4 separate regions of the Homo sapiens genome follow, and all the other regions are linked to region 3. The links come from fine-mapping of genetic effects on gene expression. A gene starts in region 3. Each other region holds a variant in brackets. All regions are shown on one strand. Distances are between the middles of the regions.

What was found. PIP is the estimated chance that this variant, and not a neighbour inherited with it, causes the effect.
Region 1: its variant is fine-mapped to the expression of ACOXL in lung (TOPMed, PIP above 0.99).
Region 2: its variant is fine-mapped to the expression of ACOXL in whole blood (TOPMed, PIP above 0.99).
Region 4: its variant is fine-mapped to the expression of ACOXL in whole blood (TOPMed, PIP 0.92).

Annotation. Positions count from the first base shown.
Region 1 is chr2:111,045,969-111,051,119 of GRCh38, forward strand. ACOXL (acyl-CoA oxidase like) reads left to right here. Exons shown (of 18, transcript NM_001142807.4): 16 at 3,250-3,320. LOC124907866 (a long non-coding RNA gene) reads right to left here and starts at 4,209. Exons shown (of 2, transcript XR_007087182.1): 1 at 4,093-4,209. RefSeq lists an enhancer at 3,884-4,178 and a silencer at 3,884-4,178. The variant A/G (reference allele first, on the strand shown) is at 2,704.
Region 2 is chr2:110,707,062-110,712,212 of GRCh38, forward strand. No RefSeq gene overlaps it. Among named protein-coding and RNA genes, the nearest start is that of ACOXL, 23 kb to the right of the region's middle. The variant T/G (reference allele first, on the strand shown) is at 2,312.
Region 3 is chr2:110,730,009-110,735,159 of GRCh38, forward strand. It overlaps ACOXL (acyl-CoA oxidase like), which reads left to right and starts at 2,565. Exons shown (of 18, transcript NM_001142807.4): 1 at 2,565-2,766. It overlaps LOC124906064 (a long non-coding RNA gene), which reads right to left and starts at 2,417. Exons shown (of 3, transcript XR_007087181.1): 1 at 2,346-2,417; 2 at 1,828-1,896; 3 at 1,353-1,627.
Region 4 is chr2:111,020,672-111,025,822 of GRCh38, forward strand. All of the region lies in intron 14 of ACOXL (acyl-CoA oxidase like), which reads left to right. Among named protein-coding and RNA genes, the nearest start is that of ACOXL-AS1, 92 kb to the right of the region's middle. The variant C/T (reference allele first, on the strand shown) is at 2,471.

The DNA of each region.
Region 1 (5,151 bases), 320 kb after region 3:
GGGACAGGACAGAGTCTGGGATAGGATCCAAGCCCATCTCCTGCACCCTCTCCTGAGGCCAGGGCAGCCCGGACATCTAAACACTAGAGACTGATTGGGAAGGAAAAACTCCATGTGTCATGTGTCACATCAAGGCATCGAACAGGGAACAGGGGAGACTTAGAGAAATCTTTGTACAGGAACCTAAGATGGAGTGCAGACTCACTGCCAGCACCGTTTCTTTACACACAGCCTCACACCTGCTCCAGCAAGTGGGCTCCGGGCTCCACACGTCACTGATGAGGAAGCGAGGCTCAGCAAGGCTGTGTGACTTGTCTAAGGACACACAGCTGGAAGTGGCAGAGGGAAGATTTAAAGTCAGGTCTGTCTGATGCCAAACCTGTGTTGAGACTACTCCCCATGCTGGCCCTGGAGAAGGGTGGTATATTAGTTCTTTCTCATGCTGCTAATAAAGACATACCCAAGACTGGGTAATTTATGAAGGAAAGAGGTTTAATTGACTCACAGTTCTGCAGGGTTGGGGAGGCCTCAAGAAACTTACAATCATGGCAGAAAGGGAAGCAAACACGTCCTTCTTCACATGGTGGCAGGAAGGAAAAGTGCCGAGCAAAAGGGGGAAATGCCCTGTATAAAACCATCAGATCTCATGAGAACTCACTATCATGAGAACAGTATGGAGGGTAACCACCCCCATGATTCATTTACCTCCCACTGTGTCCCCTCCCGTGACATGCGGAGATTATGGGAGCTACAATTCAAGATGAGATTTGAGTGGGGATACAACCAAACCATATCAGGTGGGATCCTGGCCAACCTGAGGAGACAGGGAGGGAGTGCATGGCCCAAGATGGAACCCTGCATGAATGAGAGTCAGGAGCCATCAGGGTGGTTTGCACGGGGAAGAGGGGCTAGGCCTGGTGTGGTGAGGAGGAATGCAGGCCATAGGCATAGGGCTCCAGCAGGGCCAGGCTCAGAGTGGTGGCAGCAGTGGGCATGGAGGCTGGGAAAGAGCGAGAAGTTCTCCAGAAATCAAAGTGGCAGCACTACTGTGGGAAAGTGGTGCATCCAAGGGACATCATCGTACAAGAGTCAGCAGGCATGGGGTCCTGAGGGAGAAATCAAAGAATCAGGCTCAGTGGCCTGGTGGCTGGAGGATGATAGTCCCACAGAAATGGGAAAAAGTTGGAAAGGGCTGGCTTGGTATGGAAGTTGACTGGTTTGGATTGGATGTACAGAGTTCAAGGTAACTTGAAGTGGGTGCTATGTCTATGATAACGAAAAGTATCATAGTGGAGTCCAGTGCACAGGCAGTGAGAAGTATGAACACAGGGTCACCACAGAGAGGAGAGAGCTGTCAGTGAGAATCCAGTAGCTCTCTAAGGAAGCAAGTGTTTCAATTTCCCTGACCTGCACTAAGTAAGATTCTAAGTTACAGCATAAACCTTTACCAAATAAAATAGCCACCTTAAAAAGGTGATCTAAAGAAAACCTAGCACCTGAATTTGTAGATTATTCTTTAGCCATCCTCAGACAGTAGTCAGAGATCAATATGTTATCACACCAAATCAGATCACAGCAAAAGTCCAAAACTGAGGACGGAGTTGAGGGAGAGAGGTCTTGCCTCCAGGGTCTTTCCCAGGCAGGTGTATTCTGAATGAGTGACAGCAAAAGCATTCGTGTAAACTTAACACAGCTTGGGCCCTTATCTCAATGTACAAGTTTCTGCTGAGCCACTTTTATAGGCAAAGTTAATTTTTAAAAAAGATTAAATTGATGATTCTATGTAATTAACACTGGTTTCTGCCAATTGAAGACTGGGTGGGTATATGCATTGGAGAGCATGTGGAAGGCAACATTGATCTCTCTATGGATCCCAAGTATGTCTTGACTGGATAGAGCAAAATTTAAACTTGGAAGAAATAATCAGCACCAGATACAACTGATAGCAGTCAAGATGGCATGGAGTAATTTAGTCAGAGATGAAAGCAGTCTAAGGAATTCTATTTTAGAGTAACATTGAAAACTACAAACAACCTACCCAGACAATATTTTCTTGATGAAAATTCATCATTGCTGATATAGTTCTCTTTAAAATATCTGTATTTGTAGACATGACATCCAGGCATGCTTGAGGTCAAATCATTGGAATCAGACTGTCCCTCAGCCTTGAGGCTGAGTTTAGCTCTGCCCACCTTTGTGGGATCTGCGGGAGTTGGGATGGGACCAGAGGGCAATCAATGTCTTTATTGGCTGGATGGGTGGGCTTGGGATGTTCAGTTGGAGGACTGAGTTTTGCTCTACTCAAAGACAAGAGGCAGAACTCTTCCCAGCAGAGAGCAATGAAAGGTCATAGAGGGTAAAGAGTGAACGCAGCTTTGAGTATAGCAATCAAAGGCTAAACTAGTTGGGTTAACTTAGTAAAAGCCTTAATGCGTGTCAAATAAGTGGTTTTAAATCTGAGGGTGGCAGAGAATTGTGGGAGCATTTTCAAGCATGAAACAATGTAGTCAACACAGCCTACAGGAGGGCAGTCTGTGACTTACACCAAAATAAAAATTGGTCACCACATAAGTGAGCCTTTGATGAGAACCTGGCCATAAATATGAGAAGGGGAATGTAATTTTGTAAATTTTCTAGATTAATATTCCTAGAGCTTTCATGGCCAATTTCAATGGATTACTAAAACTTTTTTTTTTTCTCGTA[A/G]ATCTTCTTGGGTTTCTCTTCCCTATTCTCCTTGAGAAGGTTGGTTGGAGAAAGACGACTTTATATATTTGGGGGAGTTTGTGGGGTTTGAGTCAACACTTGGGGCCATACACCAAGAGAAGAGTTAAAGCCATGGAAATCATGATGGAAGATTGAGATTTTTTAAATTAGCACTGTCAAATTTACAAAGGCAGGTGGAGTCTTCTCAATGAAGGTCCCAGGAAATGGAGATAGAGTGTCATCTCTGGGGACAAGATGACCCAAAAGGAAGCTGAACCCAGGACCTCCTGGCAGTTTAGGGAGGAGCTTTGCTGATGGGAATGGCCTTGTACTCTACTGTAATGACTCTGTCTGATGGGGTGGAGAAGTCACTGTACGGGGGCCCCTGACCCATGCAGGGGACAGTTGGGGAGCTCTGCCATGTCACCAAGGAAGGACGGACAGCATGCTGTTTACGTCTGTTATAACCACAGTGTCCTCCTTCACATCAGAAGGGCTCTGAGGCGGAAGTGAAGTCATTCACAATTTCCATTTCTTCCCTTCCAGTTACCTTAGAGCAGTTCTCCCTAGCAGTGAAGAGCTGTCCTGACCAAGAGGACCAGACTTTGTTAATGAAGGTAGGTTATCAGATAAAGAACTTATTTCCTAAAGGCTCAGAGCGTTTTTATTGCCCTGAGGAGAGTTTCATTTTTACAAGCGGGAGTAAATTTATCATGTCTGAATCGTGTGCTCCAGGGGGATAAGCTTGTCATAGGCGAATTGGAGGGTTGCTGGTTAACGAGCACCACTGCTGCCTGCGGAGTGCGGGAAAGTGACAGGAGAGTGGGTGTCCACATGAGTGGGGAATCTGTTTAACTCTCCAGAGGGCTCAGTTGGTTCTATTTAAACTTATCTGATGGAGTCTTGATGCTTTTTTAGCAGATTTATGAGGCTTGGCCAAATTCCACATCTCCCACTATATTTTTAATTAAGACAAAGGATTCCATACGTTCCCAGTCTGCTGCTTCCTACTTTTGGCACCTTAAGGAATGCTACACAAATTAGACTGTTCATATTCACCACCAGAATGAGCATCTTATGTCATAGATTCCTTGCCCTTGAGTGGAAGACAAGCTTCTTCCCCCCAACCCCCCGCCCCAAGGAACAGTTGTTTTATTTCCTTCCAAGTGACAGGAGCAGAGGCATTTCCAAATGGTATAACCTGCACTTAGGCTGCCTACCTAGGTGAGCCAAAAGTGTGGAAAACCCTGGCAAGCTGCCCACCTGGATTTAATTAAAACTTTGTCTTTGAAGCAGAGAGCAGTAAACAGCAGCAGATCACAAAGGTGCACACACATACTTTCCCACCACTAAGACTCATGCTTTCACACAGAAACCTTGCAGACTGACCTTGAGGTACAAATATTTCCATGATGTCACTTCAGTGCTGTACCACCAGGAAACCGCGTGCACCAGGAATTGCATTTCTTTATCTAAAAACCAGCTTCTTTACCAGGTGTCCTCTGACTTTAGAAATGGGTGGAAAAAAAATAGGGTGTCACTCTGAGGGATTTTCAACTCATTTGCCTAAGATGTGATATTTTTGGTCTTTAAAAAAAAAAAAGCTTTCAGTGATGTTAGTTTTATAATAAAGAAGCGCTGCTCATACCAAGTGTTGGGTTTGTCTGGGAACCCTGATTTTTCAGAGTCCTGGGCGTCTGATACACTGACTTAGAATGATATAGATTCAGGCACATGGGCGTTTCTTGTTTGCCACGCTTAATTCTCTGTTTCCTGCTTTAAGTTCTATTCTGCAAGGACCTTTCCTTCCAGGTGCAGGCTGGCTTTCCATGACCTTGAAGCAGCTCTTGGGCCCTGGATGCTCACCTCTTTTCTCTGCTCACCGGCCTTTGGTCTTTCTTCCCTCTATCCTGTGTTTTCTCCTACCATTTGCTTCTTGCTTCTCTCTTGTTCTTCTCCTACTGTCCATCTCTCCCCATTTGCAGGAGGTGAAGCTCCTGGGCTCCCCTGGAGGTTACATGGGCATCTCAGAGGCATTTTGGGGTACAGAGGGCAGCGACAGAGCCCAGCCCCAGAGACCACACCTCCAGGCCTGCTTCTAGTGGTCCTCATGGCCTCCCCGACTTGGGATGCCGCAGCCCCCTCTGAGTTTCTTCACATCTAGAGTGAGAGGTGAAAAGAGATGTAACCAAAGGCCCCTCCTCCTCTCACCATTTCACCTTCTTGCTGACTTTCATGGTGCTCTGGCTGGCTTCTCTAGCACATTCGGTTAGAAACTAACAGATTGGGGTTGGGAGAGGAAGGCTAAGATGGCCTGAGGTTTCCTGGAATTTGCGTGACCTCCAGTGGCGTTCAGTATTTTGTGTCTTACCTGTTGGTTTCTGCAGACTGTGTGGCCTCAGCAACAGAGGATGATTTATGTGGGCGTTTTCTCAATATTTGCAAATA
Region 2 (5,151 bases), 23 kb before region 3:
AAGCCTTCCAAATTAGTAGCACAGGATTTGTTTCATTTATTTAGGTATTTGATTTCTTTCAACAATGTTTTGTAGTTTTCAGTGCACAAGTCTTGCTTTTTGGTTAGATTTATTCATAAAAGTATCTTATTCTTTTTGATGGTTTTATAAATTGAATTGTTTTCTTAAATTTCATTTTTGGAATGGTATATAAAATACAGTAGATTTTGTATATTGATTTTGTAACCTGCTGCTTTGCTGAATTTATTTATTAGCTCTAATAGTTTTGTGACTGATTAATATTTCCTATATATAATATTACATCAAGCTGGGGCAACATAGCAAGACCCCATTGCTACAAAAAATTAAAAATTAGCTGGGGAAGGTGATATGTACCTATAGTCCTAGCTACTCAGAAGGCTGAGGCAGGAGGATCACTTGAGCCCAGGAGTTTGAGGTTATAGTGATCTGTGACTACACCACTGCAACTGCACTCCAGCTTGGGCAATAGAATGAGACTCTGCCTCAAAAAGAAAAAAAAAATGGTATCATCTGCAAATAGTTATAGTTTTACTTCTCTCTTTACAAGTTGGGTGACTTTTATTTCTTTTTCTTGCCTAATTGTCCTGGCTAGACAGTTCAATAAAATGTTAAATAACAGTAATGTGAGCAGACATCCATGTCATGTTCCTGATATTAGGGTGAAAGCTTTCAGGTATTCACTATTAAGAATGATGTTAGCTGTGGGTTTTTCATGGCTTCCCTTTATTGGGTTGAGAAAGTTCCCTAGTTTGTTGAGTATTTTGTTTTGTTTCTTATTATGAAAGCAGGATGGATTTCATCAAATGCTTTTTTCCTATATCTGTTGAGTTGGGATGATCATGTGGAGTTTTTTCTTCATTCTATTAAAACGATGTATTATATTGACTGATTTTCATATGTTGACTCACTCTTGCACTCAAGGGATATATCTCATATACAATTTTTTAATATGCTGCTGGATTCAGATTATTTGTATTTTATTGAGGATTTTTGCCTCTGTATTCATAAGGGATATTGGTTGCCAGTTTTCATCTTTGTGATGTCTTTGTCTGGCTTTGGTATCAGGGAAATACTTGCCTCATAGAATGAAGAAGTGGTCTTTTTTCTTCCAAATTTTGGAAGAATTTGAGATGGATTGGCATCAATTCCTCTATAAATGTTTGGTAGAAATCTGCTATGAAGCAATCTGGCCTTGGGCTTTTCTTTGTTGGAAGATTTTTTAAATTACCAATTCAGTCTCTTCATCTGTTGTATTCAGATTGCTTATTTTTTTTTCTTCTGTCAGTTTGACTAGTTTTGTGTGTTTCTAGGAATTTGTCAATTTCATCTGTTATCTATTTTGTTGGCATGCAATTGTTCATAGCACTCTCTTGTAATTCTTTTGATTTCTGTTAGGATGGTAGTAAAGTCTCCACTTTAATTCTTGATTTTTTTCTTCTCTCTCTCTCTCTCTGTCTCTCACTCTCTCTCTCTTTTAATCAGTCTAGCTAAAAGTTTGTCTTCATTTTTTAAAGTAGAGATGGGGTCTCACTATGTTGCCCAGTCTGGTGTCAAACTCCTGGCCTCAAGCAATCCTCCTACCTCAGCCACCCAAAGTTCTGGGAATGCAGTTGTGAGCCACCACATTTTGCCAGCCAAATTTGCCTATTTTATCAATCTTTTCCAAGAATAAACGTTTGGTTTTGTTGATTCTTTCCATCATTTTTCTGTCTTCTATTTCATTTATCCCTGCTCCAGTCTTTGTTATTTTTTCCCCTTCTGCTCTTTGGGTTTAATTGCTTTCCTTTTTCTAGTTCCTTAAGGTTGAAGTTCAGTTGATTTGAATCTTTTTTCTTTTCAATGTGGGCACTTACAGCCATACATTTCTCTCTGCCTGCTGCCTTTGCTGCATCTCATAGGTTTGGGAATGTTTTGTTTTTCTGAAAGTATTTTCAATTTTCTCTTGTTATTTCTTTTTGATCCATCAGTTATTTAAGAGTGTGCCATTTAATTTCCACAAATTTCTGAATTTTCTAAATTTCCTTCTGCTATTGATTTCTAAGTTTATTCCATTGTGTCAAAGAAGATACTTTGTATGCCTTCACTTGTTTTACACTTATTGAGGCTTCATTTGTGGATTAACCTATGGTCATCCTGGAAGTTGTTCCATTAGCACTTGAAAATAATGTATGTTTTGCTGTTGTTTAGTGAAATGCTATATATATGTCTGTTCAATTCAGTTGGTTTAAAGTGTTGTTCAAGTCTTCTGTTTCCTTGTTTATCATTTCTTTAGCTGTTCTTCTTTTTTTTT[T/G]TTTTTTTAGATGGAGTCTTGCTTTGTCACGTCACCCAGGCTGAAGTGCAGTGATGCAATCTCGGCTCACTGCAACTTCTGCCTCTCGGGTTCAAGCGATTCTCTTGCCTCAGCCTCCCGAGTAGCTGGGATTATGGGCACCCGCCCCCACACCCGACTAATTTCTGTATTTTTAGTTGAGACGGGGTTTCACCATGTTGGCCAGGCTGGTCTCAAACTCCTGACCTTAAGTGATCCACCCACCTCGGCCTCCCAAAGTGCTGGGATTACAGGTGTGAGCCACTGCACCTGGCCATGGTTAGTTGTTCTATTCATTATTGAAAGGAGGGTGTTGAATTTTTCAACTTTTATTATTTAACTGTCTATTTCTCACTTCAATTCTGTTAGTTTTTGCTTCATATATTTTGAGACTCTGTTATTGAGTGCATATGTTTATACCTGTTATATATCTTAATAAATTGACCCTTTTATCATTATATAAATGCCCTCCTTGCCTCTTGTAACAATTTTTGTCTTAAAGTCTATTTTGTCTGACATTAGTAGCCACTCCAGCTCTCTTTGGGTTACTATTTTCATGGAATATCTTTTTGTGTCCTCTCATTTTCAACCTATGTGTGACTTGAAACAAAAATGAGTATCTTGTAGCTGGGGTATAATTGGGAAATGTTCACCCATTCTGCCAATATCTGGTTTTTAAATGAAGAGTTTAATCTATTTTTATTTAACGTGATTACTGATCATTACTTCTGCATTTTATTTTTGTTTTCTAAATGTCTTACATATTTTTTGTTCCTCAGTTCCTGTTATTCCCTTCTTTTGTATTAAAAATATATTTTATTTCTTTTTTTGGTGTTGTCTGTCAGTGTACACAGAAAGATATTTTTTACAGTACCATTTTGATTCCATTTTCATTTCTTTTACTATATATTTTTAGTCATTTTCTTAGTGTTTGCCCTGGGGGTTACGACTAACATAATTTATAACAATCTGGATGAAATTAATATCAATTTTTCCTTTTTTACAAATTTTTTGAGACAGGGTCTTGACTGGAGTGCAGTGGTGCGATCGTGGCTCACTGAAGCCTCCGCTTCCTGGGTTCAAGCAATTCTCCCACCTCAGCTGGGCGAGTAGCTGGTACTACAGGTGCGTGCCACCATGCTTGGCTAATTTTTGTATTTTTTGGTAGGGACAGAGTTTCACCATGTTGGCCAGGCTGGTCTTGAACTCCTGACATCAAGTGGTCTGCCTGCCTGAGCCTCCCAAAGTGCTGGGATTGCAGGTGTGAGCCACCGCACCCAGCCTCAATTTATTCTTGATAGTGCACGAAACTTTTGCTCCTATATATCTTTGCTTCCTCCTTTATTTTGTTACTGTGGGAGGAGGTGGAACTGGGTTCCTTACCACTTATATGTCTTCAAAATAACCAGTGATTCCTATCAGTATATATGTGATTGTTATTAAGAAGAATAGAAGTGGAGAGGGGAATTAATAGGCTCTGGGAGGTAAAAGTTTCTGTGATTATTTACTCTAAAAGCAGCAAAGCTGTAATGAGATATTTGAGGTTGCTGTTCCTAGGTAGTATCTAGGATTGAACTTCATTCCAAGTAATTAAAAATTTTACTTTGAAAATTAGGCAGGTTCTGGGGGCCTATGACTACTCACTGGTTCAGTAATTCACTAGAAGAACCTGCATAACTCAGCATCAGATTCTACTCACCGCTAAGGTTTATTGCAAAAGATACAGTGCCAGAACAGAAAAAAAAAAATACACGTACAGGTGAAGGCTAAAATGCTCAGGAACAGGCTTTTGTCCTTCTGCATGGCTTACACACACACATGTTTTCTTTCCAGCTTTGAAGAGCAGAGAACTCAGGCACAGTTCTGGTGCATACCTGCTACGCAAGCACTCGTGTTGTGAGCCTCAAACCAGGCACCAGGTGTACATCATAGAGGTTCATGTTTGCTTTAAATGGTGTTGATGGTTTAGTATGTCCTACCCCAATGTGCTGGGCACAGAATGACATCATTTGTGAACATTCCAAGGTTTAGTTCTTAGATCCTGGCTCCAGACATCCTCAGAGATAAGCTAGAATTGAGCAAAACAGATTTGCTGCACTGACTCTTTCCCTGCAAGGGGTTACCGTAAAAATGGAATATGAAATGCCTACTTAAGTACAGTTCACAGTTGCGCAGTGTTCTGTATGTCTTAGGGGGAGAGCGTACAAATATAACTTAAATAAACATCCTTTGAAGCAAAGAAAACTGAAAAAATGAAGTCATATATATGTAGAGATTTAGTAGCAGATGAATTTTCCTGGCATCAAACAACTGACTGCATTTGTCCATGATCAGAAAATAGCAAAATTCCTATTTCCCCTTGTTGCAGTGAAGTTGGGCTTTCTGTTAATTTCTGACCCTCTGGGTAGAAATCCCTAAATAAATGGGAAGACAAGGAAGCACCTGAGCTCTAAAGGAATCTCTTGAGATTGTCTGAGTGGAGTCTGGGCAGTGATGACAGTGGAAAGGCAGCAGTCTTGAGTCCATTCTGAAATTTGGCCCTTCTTGGAGCTCTCTGGCTTGAGCCTGGTGCAGTTGCCCTGATACTAAGGGAGCTGAGCAGTGTCCTTGGAGACGCTGCACACCTTAGGCCAGAGCAGCACAGCATCACACTCCACGTAGGCTTGATCTCTGCCTCCCTGTCACAACGCTGCCCCCAATACCTTTGGCCAGATGTCTCATTCCTGGGGGAAAGCCACCTCTCCATTCTACAGGAGCAACACTGCTGCGACCATTTTCCCTCCTCACCCTGCTGGTCTGGATAGGGTCCATCACAGAGCTCT
Region 3 (5,151 bases):
CAGCCTCTAAGCCAATGTACCTATTTTAGTTTTTTATTTAATCAGCAACATTCTTTTAGTATCTTCTATGATTGGCTACGTAACAAATGACCCTCAAAAAAAATCTTAGTGGTTGGCCGGGTGCGGTGGCTCATGCCTGTAAACCCAGCACTTCGGGAGGTCGAGGTGGGTGGATCACAATCACCTGAGGTCAGGAGTTTGAGACCAGCCTGGCCAACATGGTGAAACCGTGTCTCCACTAAAAATACAAAAAATTGCCAGGCTTGGTGGCGGGCACCTGTAATCCCAGCTACTCAGGAGGCTGAGACAGGAGAATCGCTTGAACCCAGGAGGCAGAGGTTGCAGTGAGCCAAGATCATGCCATTGCACTCCAGCCTGGGCAACAAGAGCAAAACTCCACGTCAAGAAACAACAACAACAACAACAAAAATCTTAGTGGCTTCTAAGAACAGAGGCCTTTCTTTTTTCTCACTCAAGCAAACACTCACTTGGAAGTTAACTTAGTAACCTATCTTTTCAGTTTATAGGTCTCCGGATCAAGAGGAGCCACATCCTGACTTGATGCAAGGACCACTCTGTATCCCCCAGGGGCCTCAGACTTGATGTTGTGGAGGTGTGGGGCTTTGGCTGCTTCCCTGGAAGGATGGAGAGTATATTTTGCCTGTGGAAGGGAGAGTGTGACCAGAAGGGCAGATTGAATAGTCACTAGCTCTGCTTACAGATGATTTTGGGTGTTGACCTCCTGGGCATGTCCAGGGTGGTACCTCCCTTCCCCCATCGAGACAGGAGTGAGCTGCTTTGTCCAGTGGATTGTGAGTAGAAGTTATGTGTGTCTCTTCCAGCTGGAAGCTTTAAAAGCCAGTGTGGCCACACAATCATGGCTGTTCTGTCAGCCAGGACCTGGACCGAGGGGACATGGAACAGAACCCCCAGGTAGCATGAGTGAGAAATAAACTCTTGTCTTTTTAGGCCCTAAGATTTGAGGAAGTGTATGTGAAGTCGTTTCGGGGTTGTTTGTTACCACTACACTATTTTGGCTGATATAGAAGGAAATACTCCTCTTCTGCTTTGCACAGGGTGGTGCTTGGAGCTGCAGCATCCATCTTACAACTGGTAGAAGACAAGTTAAAAAAAAAAAGGTAACGATTACATATAGAGAAAGGATGGCGGATGGTGGAGCAGAAAGATGCAAAGGACCTGGGTCCCCAGGGTAGAGCCATCAAATTCACCCCTGGGGCTTTCCTACCACCAAGCTTCCTGTGATGTGAGAAAACAAAGCCCCTTTTATCATGGATGACTGGGTATTATTACTCGCAGCTGCACAGGTGTGGTAGACAGAGGAATGACTCGCCAAAGGTGCTCATGTTTTAATCCCTAGTACCGGAGAGTGTGTTTCTGATATGGCAAAATGGACATTGCTGGTGTGATTAAAGTATGGATCTTGTGGTGGGAAGATTATTCCCATTGACCATGGATTATTCCCATGGGTCCCATGTAAACAAGTCCAAGGGAGGCAAGAAGGTCAAAGTCAGTAGAAGATGGAACGATGAAAGCAGAGCTTGAAGTGATGCATTTTGAAGACAGACGAAGGGGCCAGGAGCTAAGAAATGCAGGCAGCCTCTAGGAGCTAGTAAAGACAAGGAAATGCATTTTTCCCTGGAGCTGTGAGAAGGAACCCAGCTCTGCCAACACCTTGATTTTAACCCTGTAAGTCCTATTTTGGACTTCTGACTTCCAGAAATGTAAGAGAATAAATTGGTGCTATCTTAAGCCACTCACTTTGTGGGAATTTGTTACTGGAAACGAATACAGATGGCATCCACTAACCTCACGACAGCAGACCACACCATCATCTCCCCAGCAAAGTAGCCTCTGGAAGGGAACGGCTAACATTTCCTTGAGTATTTAAAAGGAGAATCAACAAGGTATATGAGAATTAGGGAGCAGAAAGGAAGGAACATTTTCCACTTAGGTTATAACTCATTTTCCTCCAGCCACAACAAAAAAAGGAGTGTCCTGGGAAATGAGTATCGTGTTCCGGTCGATCACCTCGTCATGAATGCAGCTTCCAGCTACCCTGGACTGCAGTGCTGTAGACCTGGGACGCCTTTAGATTACCGTGATATTAGAGTTCACAGTAATGCCCAGTGCGGGGAAGAGGTGAGATACAGCTGAGGAGGGGCCAGAGCTGGAGCCAGGCTATCTTGGGTCGTGGGGGTCAGGCAAAGTGGCTGGCCGGGAGATCTGCTGAGTGGGTCAGCCGGTCAGTCCTGAGCAGCCGGGCCTCTGGTGCCCAGGTCCACGTGACTGGCACCCTTTCTAGGGGTCTAGTACTTGTTTCTTACGGCTCACAAATCTTGAGGGACAGTTGATAACTGGAGGGTAGAGTTTTCGCTTCCTCGGAAGGGCAAGGGGAGGCCACCGTAGAAGCGCCCGCTCGCGCCGGACCTCCCGCCCGGGAAGCCAGGGCAGGGCGGGGCCGGGGAGGGAGGGGAGAGGAAGGTGAGGAGGGAGGAGACGGGCCGGGAGGGGTGGAGAGGGAGAGGGCGTGCGCCTGGGGCCTCACCTGCTGGGAGCTGGAGGAGGCGCGGAGCGAAGCCGGCCCTGCCAGCCACGCGGAGAAGCAGAGGCAGGTGAGCGCGATGCAGCCGGCGCCGGGTCTGGGGCTCGGGGACTCCTCCCTGCACCGCTACCTGGACGGCGACTTCTGGAGCCTCAAGAACGAGCTGCGCGGACTCCTCGGCGGCGCCCGCTCTTCCGGCAAAGGTACCGCGCTGCGGCCGTCGCCCCTGCCCGCGCCCCCGAAGCCGCCGAGCGTGTCCCCTCGGTCCCCGGAGCGTCGCTGCGGACAACGCCCTGGCGAGGGCGAGGTGGGGTGTGCGCCGCGCCTGAGAGGCGGGTCCCTGCCTCGCCGCAGGTGACGGGCTCCCCTCCCCAGGTGTGTGGGCGCAGCCGGCCGCCGCCGACCTCTTCGGCCCCCTGAGAGGTGCCCTCTCCTCCCGAGCTCCCTCCCCCACGAAGAGTCGGGTGCAGGGCTGGGCCCCGCGGTGACAGGCGCGGTGTCTACGAAGACCGTGTGGCTGGAAGATCGGCCTTGCTGGTTTGTTGAACCTGTTTCTTGAGTCCCCGCCCCGCGATGTCCCACCCTTGGTGGGGAGAAGGGGACAGAAAACCGCGATGGGATGGGCGCACAGGGATGGAGTGGCCCTGTCCAGGGCGTGTCTGGGCGTCGGGGTGGGACAGGCTTACAGGACCCCCTCGGAGTGCAGGTGTGCGGAATGGGCAGCTTCAGCGGGGCGGTTTGGTTATAAGAAGAACTCAGGTCCTCGATGTCATCCGATGCCAGGACAGCCCTGAGAAGCAGGCAGAGGGTTGAGTGCTTGAGCTGCACTGGAGATAGAGAGATGGTTCAGTCACCGGACAGTCAGGACCAGAACTCGGCATTCGTGTCTCCTGTGGGCTCTCTTTCTCATACCCATTTCAAGCAGTCTGAAAAGCCCAGTTGGAGGCATGCTTTGGAGTTCTAGCTTAAGAAAGGCCCTATTAAAAATGTCAGTATGTGCCCGTGGAGGATTAATTGGTTAGCCATGCCCACTTAGCCCTCGTTTAATTTATTTTGCGGAAATGAGAGGGAAGGAGATGGCTTGAGTGAACGTCAGGCTGTCCTTGGAGAATCTGGGGTTCCTGCACTGAGGTTACCTAGTGGGGAGTTGGGGGCGTTTGAAAGTTGAAAAGTGAGAAGTGTGGGATGGTGGGTATATCCATCAGTGTCTCGCCGACTTCTCTTTCCCTCTCTCTCATACATAGTTCTTTAAGTTATGGTTCTCAAAGTGTGGTACAGGGAGCCCTGGGGGGACCCAAGAGCATTTCAGGCGGTTCATGAGTACAAACTGTTTTTATAGTAATACAAAAAAAGTTATTAGCTTTTTCACTCTCATTCTCTCACTAATGTACAGTGGCAGTTTCCAGAGACCACATGATGTGTAGTATTCCAGCAGAAAAAATATAGAAGCAGACATGAGAATACAGCTGCTTTCTATTAAGACAGACAGTAAAGGGATTTGTAAAAATATAGAACGATGCTACTCTTCTTGCTAACTTTTTTTGTTTTGGAAAATAGTTATTTTCATAAAATACACTAATAGATTTATTAGTTATTTTCAAATGAATTAATAAACATTTGAAAACTTTTCTGTTTTAATTTCTAATACGGGAAATATCAGTGGATATAACCCACCCAAATAAAAGCTCTTTGGGGACCTCATAATTTTTTTTTTTTGAGACGGAGTCTGACTCTGTTGTCCAGGCTGGAGTGCTGTGGTGTGATCTCAGCTCACTGCAACCTCCACCTCCTGGGTTCAAGCGATTCTCCTGTCTCAGCCTCCGGAGTAGCTGAGATTACAGGCACCCACCACCACGCCTGGCTAATTTTTTGTATTTTTAGTAGAGATGGGGTTTCACCGTGTTGGCCAGGCTGGTCTTGAACTTCTGACCTCAAGCGATCCGCCTGCCTCGGTCTCCCAAAGTGCTGGGACCTCATAATTCTTAACAGTGCAAAGAGTTCCTAAAATCAATGTTTGTGAACGGCTGCTTTAAGTCATACTGAGTTCAGTCGCATCTGATTAGACACACATCCCCTCCTATATTCCTCAGTCTTTTCAGTTTGTTCCTGGGCTATCACCTCTTTGTCTTTCAGTTTAGATAACTGCAGTTTAAAAGACGGAACAAAATTGTAATAACCAAACTACTGATTTGAGGCAAGCAGAAGGGACTTCCTTGTGAATTCCATAGGGACAGAGGAAAGGCATGCCTGGATAAGGGGTCCAGTGTGGCAGTTTATTTCCTGTGTGACCATTGTCCTGGATTTTTTTTTCCCCCTTATTGACTTACATTTGTTCATCTACAGAATGCAGATAATATCAATGCTGCTGTGTTATGAAGCTTGAATGAAAAACTGTTGCGTGGGCATGGAGTAAACACTGGTTGTGGTGGGATACCAAAACACACTTGCACGCAAAGGGAAAAGCAAAAATCCCATTACCCTGACAAACACTTTTCCATTCTTTCCAGTTCTTGTTTATTTACTTTATAGTTCAGAGTTGTAGTAATGGCATGAACAACATTTCATATTTTTTCCCCAAATGGTTAAAG
Region 4 (5,151 bases), 290 kb after region 3:
TTGCTGCTGTGAACAAGACAGTCTGCTAGGAGCCCCCTTTGTGAACAATGATGTGGGCTCTCATGCAGCTGTGCTGAACCAGCTGTGTTGGGGCCTGGGGACCAGGAGGGCCAGACAGATCGTATTCTTTGGAGCCATATTTATTTGGGTTCCAGTGTGTGACCTAGAGACAGATGTTGAACTCTTCTGAGACTCCTCTGTAAAAGCAGAATGTCTTTCTTACACAGCACTTCAGTGCAGTGCTTGGAACATGGAAGGTGCTCAGTATGTCCTGGTTGCTGGACCCATTCATAGCATTATCAATGCCATCGATCACTTTGGCATTGTGTTTTTCTAGGAAAATGTGTTGTGAATTCCAGCCTTGCACCTCAGGGGCACGCCTCCCTAGACAGGGACTATTTCACCTGCTCCACCTTGCAGAACTGTCACCTGCCACATTCTGAGCAAAGGGAGATTCTGGTGCAGAGGAGGCTGGGACAGGCAAGGGTGGCAGGGGCGAAGGGTAGAGGAGTGGGCCAGTGGAGGAAAGCACCTTGTACTTCAACTCTGACCTGGGCTCAGCATTTCACTGGGTCTCAGAGACCAGACAAGAATCCTGCAGCTGGCCCCCGAATCCGGGATACAGTCCTGTCTGGGCACTTCTCTTTCTCCGTGGGAAACAAGCTGGGAACTGTGGACATCAGGGTGCTCTCTGTATCCTTTCTCCCATATTCCCTTTTTCTCATATGTAGCAGGATGTTGAGGGAGATTTGTTTACCCTGCTGTCTTGGAATTCTAGCTCAGTTTCAAAGCTTAGGGCAAAGGTGCCAAGAATCCCACATTCTCATCTCAGAAGCCACCAGTGAGCCGCTGGCTACTGGGCCCAGCCCCCTTATTCTCTGGGAGACTCTCCTTGAGGACCTGCCACACCTGCCCTTCAGTACAGAAAGAGGGCATCTCAGAGCTCAGGAAGAGAGGCTGCGGGTGGAGAGGGGAGGACCCTCTTCCCAAAGCCAAGCAGAGGAAACCAAGTTTAATAGAGAAAATATCTAAAGATGAAAGGGAGGAATCATTTGGAGTGCAAATACATGAGAGAAGAGTGGAAGTTGAGACACTTGAATTAACCCAGGAAACAAGAGAGAACACCACAAGGAAAAAGAGATAGAAATACAGGAATAAAAATAAAAACGAGATCTGTTTCTGGGGAATGTAAAAAAGAAAAAAAAGAAAAAACTTGGAAGGACCAAGGAATACAGAAAGGCAGAAAAACACGGCAAAATTAAAAATATAGAAGAGTAAAAAAGTGCTTATGTAAGCCCAGAAAAAAAGACAGAACTCATCTAGACCAGAGAGAGAGAGATGAAAAAATACAGAATAGAAAAAATTGTAAAGACGTAATACAGAAAGAAAAATATAGGAAGGCCGGACGTGGTGGCTCATGCCTGTAATCCCAGCACTTTGGGAGGCCGACGCGAGCAGATCACCTGAGGTCAGGAGTTCAAGACCAGCCTGACCAACACTGGCCAACATGGTGAAACCCTGTCTCCACTAAACAAATACAAAAATTAGCCAGGCATGGTGGTGGGCGCCTGTAATCCCAGCTACTTGGGAGGCCAAGGCTGGAGAATCGCTTGAAACCAGGAGGCAGTGGTTGTGGTGAGCCGAGATCGTTCCACTGCACTCCAGCCTAGGTGACAAGAGCGAAACTCCATATCAAAAAAAAGAAAAAGAAAAATACAGGAAGACAGACAAATATATAAAGACCCCTCCTCACACACACACACACACACACACACACAAAGGCACACACAAGAAAGAAAGTCAAACCGGAAGAGAGACAGGAAGATAGAGATGGGGCTGAGCAGATGAGGGATGGTCCCTTCCTGCCCCTGGCACAGGCAGGGGCGGGCTTACATCTGTCAGGATACCCCCAAGGCAAGCAATGGCATCTGGAGGTGCTTCTGGGGACCCCGAGGAAGGCAGCCGCGTGTTCTGCCCACATCAGCCAGTGCAGTCACAGAGAGGTGTGGGCAGGACCCCCAGGGGCCCCCAGACCTCCCAGCCAGGGCCAACCAGGAGGCAGGGAGGGCTCCTAGGGGCCTGCAGCAGAGGGAGGCGAGGGCAGGTACCACTGTGTTGGAGGTGACCACGCTGGAAGCCCAGGCCACTGGCGACACTTACTACAGAAAGGAAAGAGAAGAAAAGGAAGGAGAAGGAGGAAGAAAAAAGACTCTGTGGCCTGGGAAGATCTGGCTTGCGACATTTCCCGTGACTCTGCAAGGTGGTTACTGGCTAGGCAGTTCAGGGCTCACCCCCAAGAGCAGAAAGTGGGGAAGCAATCATAGTGTTGGCCTCTACTTGTCTATAAAAATATTTTAATGTAGCTGCATACTCCATGTCTGTTGTTGAACTCCATATCTGATGGGCGTCATGTGAGAGGGGCAGCACCTGATGTGTGTCGCAAAAGCTGACATCCAGGCTCCGAGACGTC[C/T]TTCTGTCTACCAGGTGGGAGTGCAGTTATTGATCAGGACTGGACTCTTTCCTGATGATGCCACCTCTGTGCACAGGGAGATGAGAGGGGAGCGGGGAGATTTAGGAGTAAGCACGGTCAAATCACTCTAAGGACATACAAATGGATCTGGGGCTAGGTACAAGGGGAGGAATGTTTTAAACGCTGCCCTGGACAGGACCCTGAAGAACTCAGAAGGTGGAAGCAGAAATGATGGCACTGGAAAGGCCTGATGCATTCTGCAGAGGATTGTGCACTCCCTCAGGTTTCTGCTCATCCTGTTTTAATCAAAAAATGGGATTTTTTGATTACAGGGAGACATCTGTAGCCCGTGGAAGTGGTATTGGGCTGGAAGGCTGGCATGAGGAAGGGGCCATCTGTGGGTCCGGATGGGTGTGGGGACGTGTGGGAGAAGGGGCCCCATGGGAAATAGTGAGATGCAGAGCATGCTGCTGAGCGTTAGGTGGTCCTGGGTATGGAGCAGGATGGAGGATAATTGCCAAGAGAGACACTGAGCCCCTCAGCGTGGCTGGAGGGCAGAGTGGGCACAGAACACAGGGCTGGAGGAAGGCATGGGCCAGACAGGGAAATTGAAGCTGTCACAGCTGGGGAAGCTGTCACAGCTGGGGAAGCCACCACAGGGGCCTTAAAATGCTGTGGTTGGGAGAAGACCAAGGACACCCAGACCGAGGAGGGACACTCCTAGGCTGCGATGGTGGAAGGTGGGTGGCTGGGCCAAGAGAACATGCAAGGACAATCTGAGCACTCACTCACTCAGTGAACTGCCACCTCAGGCCCAGTGTTTTGCTAGTGCTGGGCACCCTGGCCTCCTGTTGAACAGGTCAAGGAGGGACTGTGATCACCTTTAACAATTAGGGGAGGCAGAGTGTATCAGCTAAAGTGCTTGTCTGCTGTGGTTTAACTAAAGAGGGGCTTGCTGTTCTCCCCCAATGAGAAGACAGAGGTAGGCAGCCTAGGACTCAGGCTGTGGCTCCATGACAAAGAAGGGCCAGGGCTCTTACTCTCTCCGTCCTCTCTGTCCCCAGGTTGTAGATTGAATTCTGTCCTTGAAAAAGATATGTTCAAGTCCTAACCCGCAGTACCTGTGAATGTGACCCTGTTGGAAATAGGGTCTTTGCAGATGGAATCAAATTAGGTCACACTGGAGTAGGGTGGGCTTTAACCCAATATGACTGCTGTCTTTATAAGAAGAGCAGAGACTCATGGAAGAAGGCTTTATGCTGGTGGAGGCAGCAATGGGAGTGAAGCAGCTGCAAGCCAAGGAATGTTGGAGACCACTGGCAACCACCAGAAGCCAGAAGAGGAAAGAAAGAACCTTCAGAGGTGGCATGGAACTGCTGACACCTTGATTTCAGACTTCTAGCCTCCAGAACTGCGAGAGAATACATTTCTGTTTTTAGCCACTAGGATTGTGGTAAGGAGTTACAGCAGCCCTAGGGAACCAATATACCTCCATAGTGCAGCCTTTAAAACTGTTCTCAAGGTCACATGGTGGCTGAGTTCCAAGCAGGTAGGTGCAGAAAGGACAAAGAGAAAAAGGCGGTATCTTGTTATCAGGAAAACAGTAGCTTTTACAGAGGAGCTTCCCGGTAGACAACTGCCTGTTCTCATTGGCAAGGGAGGTTACATGTCTAACCCTAGCGGCTAGGGAGTATGGGGAGGTGAGATTTAAAAAAAAAGAAATCCATTTTTATATATAAAAATTATATAATATATAAATGTATAATAATATATATTACATATAATTTACATGAATTAAAATTAACCAATTTTAAATGTACAACTAACCAGTTTTGACAAATGCATATGTCATATAACCACCACTAGCATCTGGATATAGGACATTTCTGTCACCCACAAAGTTCCTTTGTGCAACTTTGCAGTCAATCCCTTCCCCATCCCCAACTCCTGGAAACTACTTATCTTTCTTTCATTGTAAATTTGCCTTTTCTATAATTTAATAGAAATGGAACAGCTTAGGTTTGTTCCTCTTTATTGTGAAGTGGTATTCGTTTGTGTAGGTGTATACAATTTGTTTACCCATTAAGCAGGTGGTAGATGTACGCACTGCTTCCCGTGTTGGCTATTATGAATAAAGCTTCTGTGAACAATTTTATATGTGACTTTATGTGGACATATGTTTTTGTTTATCTTGTGTAAATACCGAGGGGTGGAATGGCTGGGTTCTTCTATAGGTATAGGTTTAACTTAATCAGAAATTGCCCAGCTGTTTCTAAAGTGGCTGTAACATTTTACACTCCCATCAGCAATGATTTTAGTTGCTCCACATCCTCACCAATACTCGGTTTTGCAAGTCTTACTCATTTTAGCCATTTTAGTGGGTGCGTAGTACCTTCTCATTGTGGTCTTAATCTGCGTTTCTCAGATCTTCTTCATGTGTTTATTTGCTATTCATTTTGTCTTCTTTGGTGAAGTGTGTGTTCAGATTTTCTGTCCATCTGTTAAACTGGGTTTTGTTTTCCTGTGACTGAGCTGTAGATGTCTTTACAAATTCTGTACAGAAATCCTTTATTATATGAGATTGCATAGATTTTTGCCTCATCCATTACCTGCCTTTTCATTTGCTTCACAGTGTATTTAAATTTTGAAAACATTCAAAATTTGTGTCTTATCTCACAAAA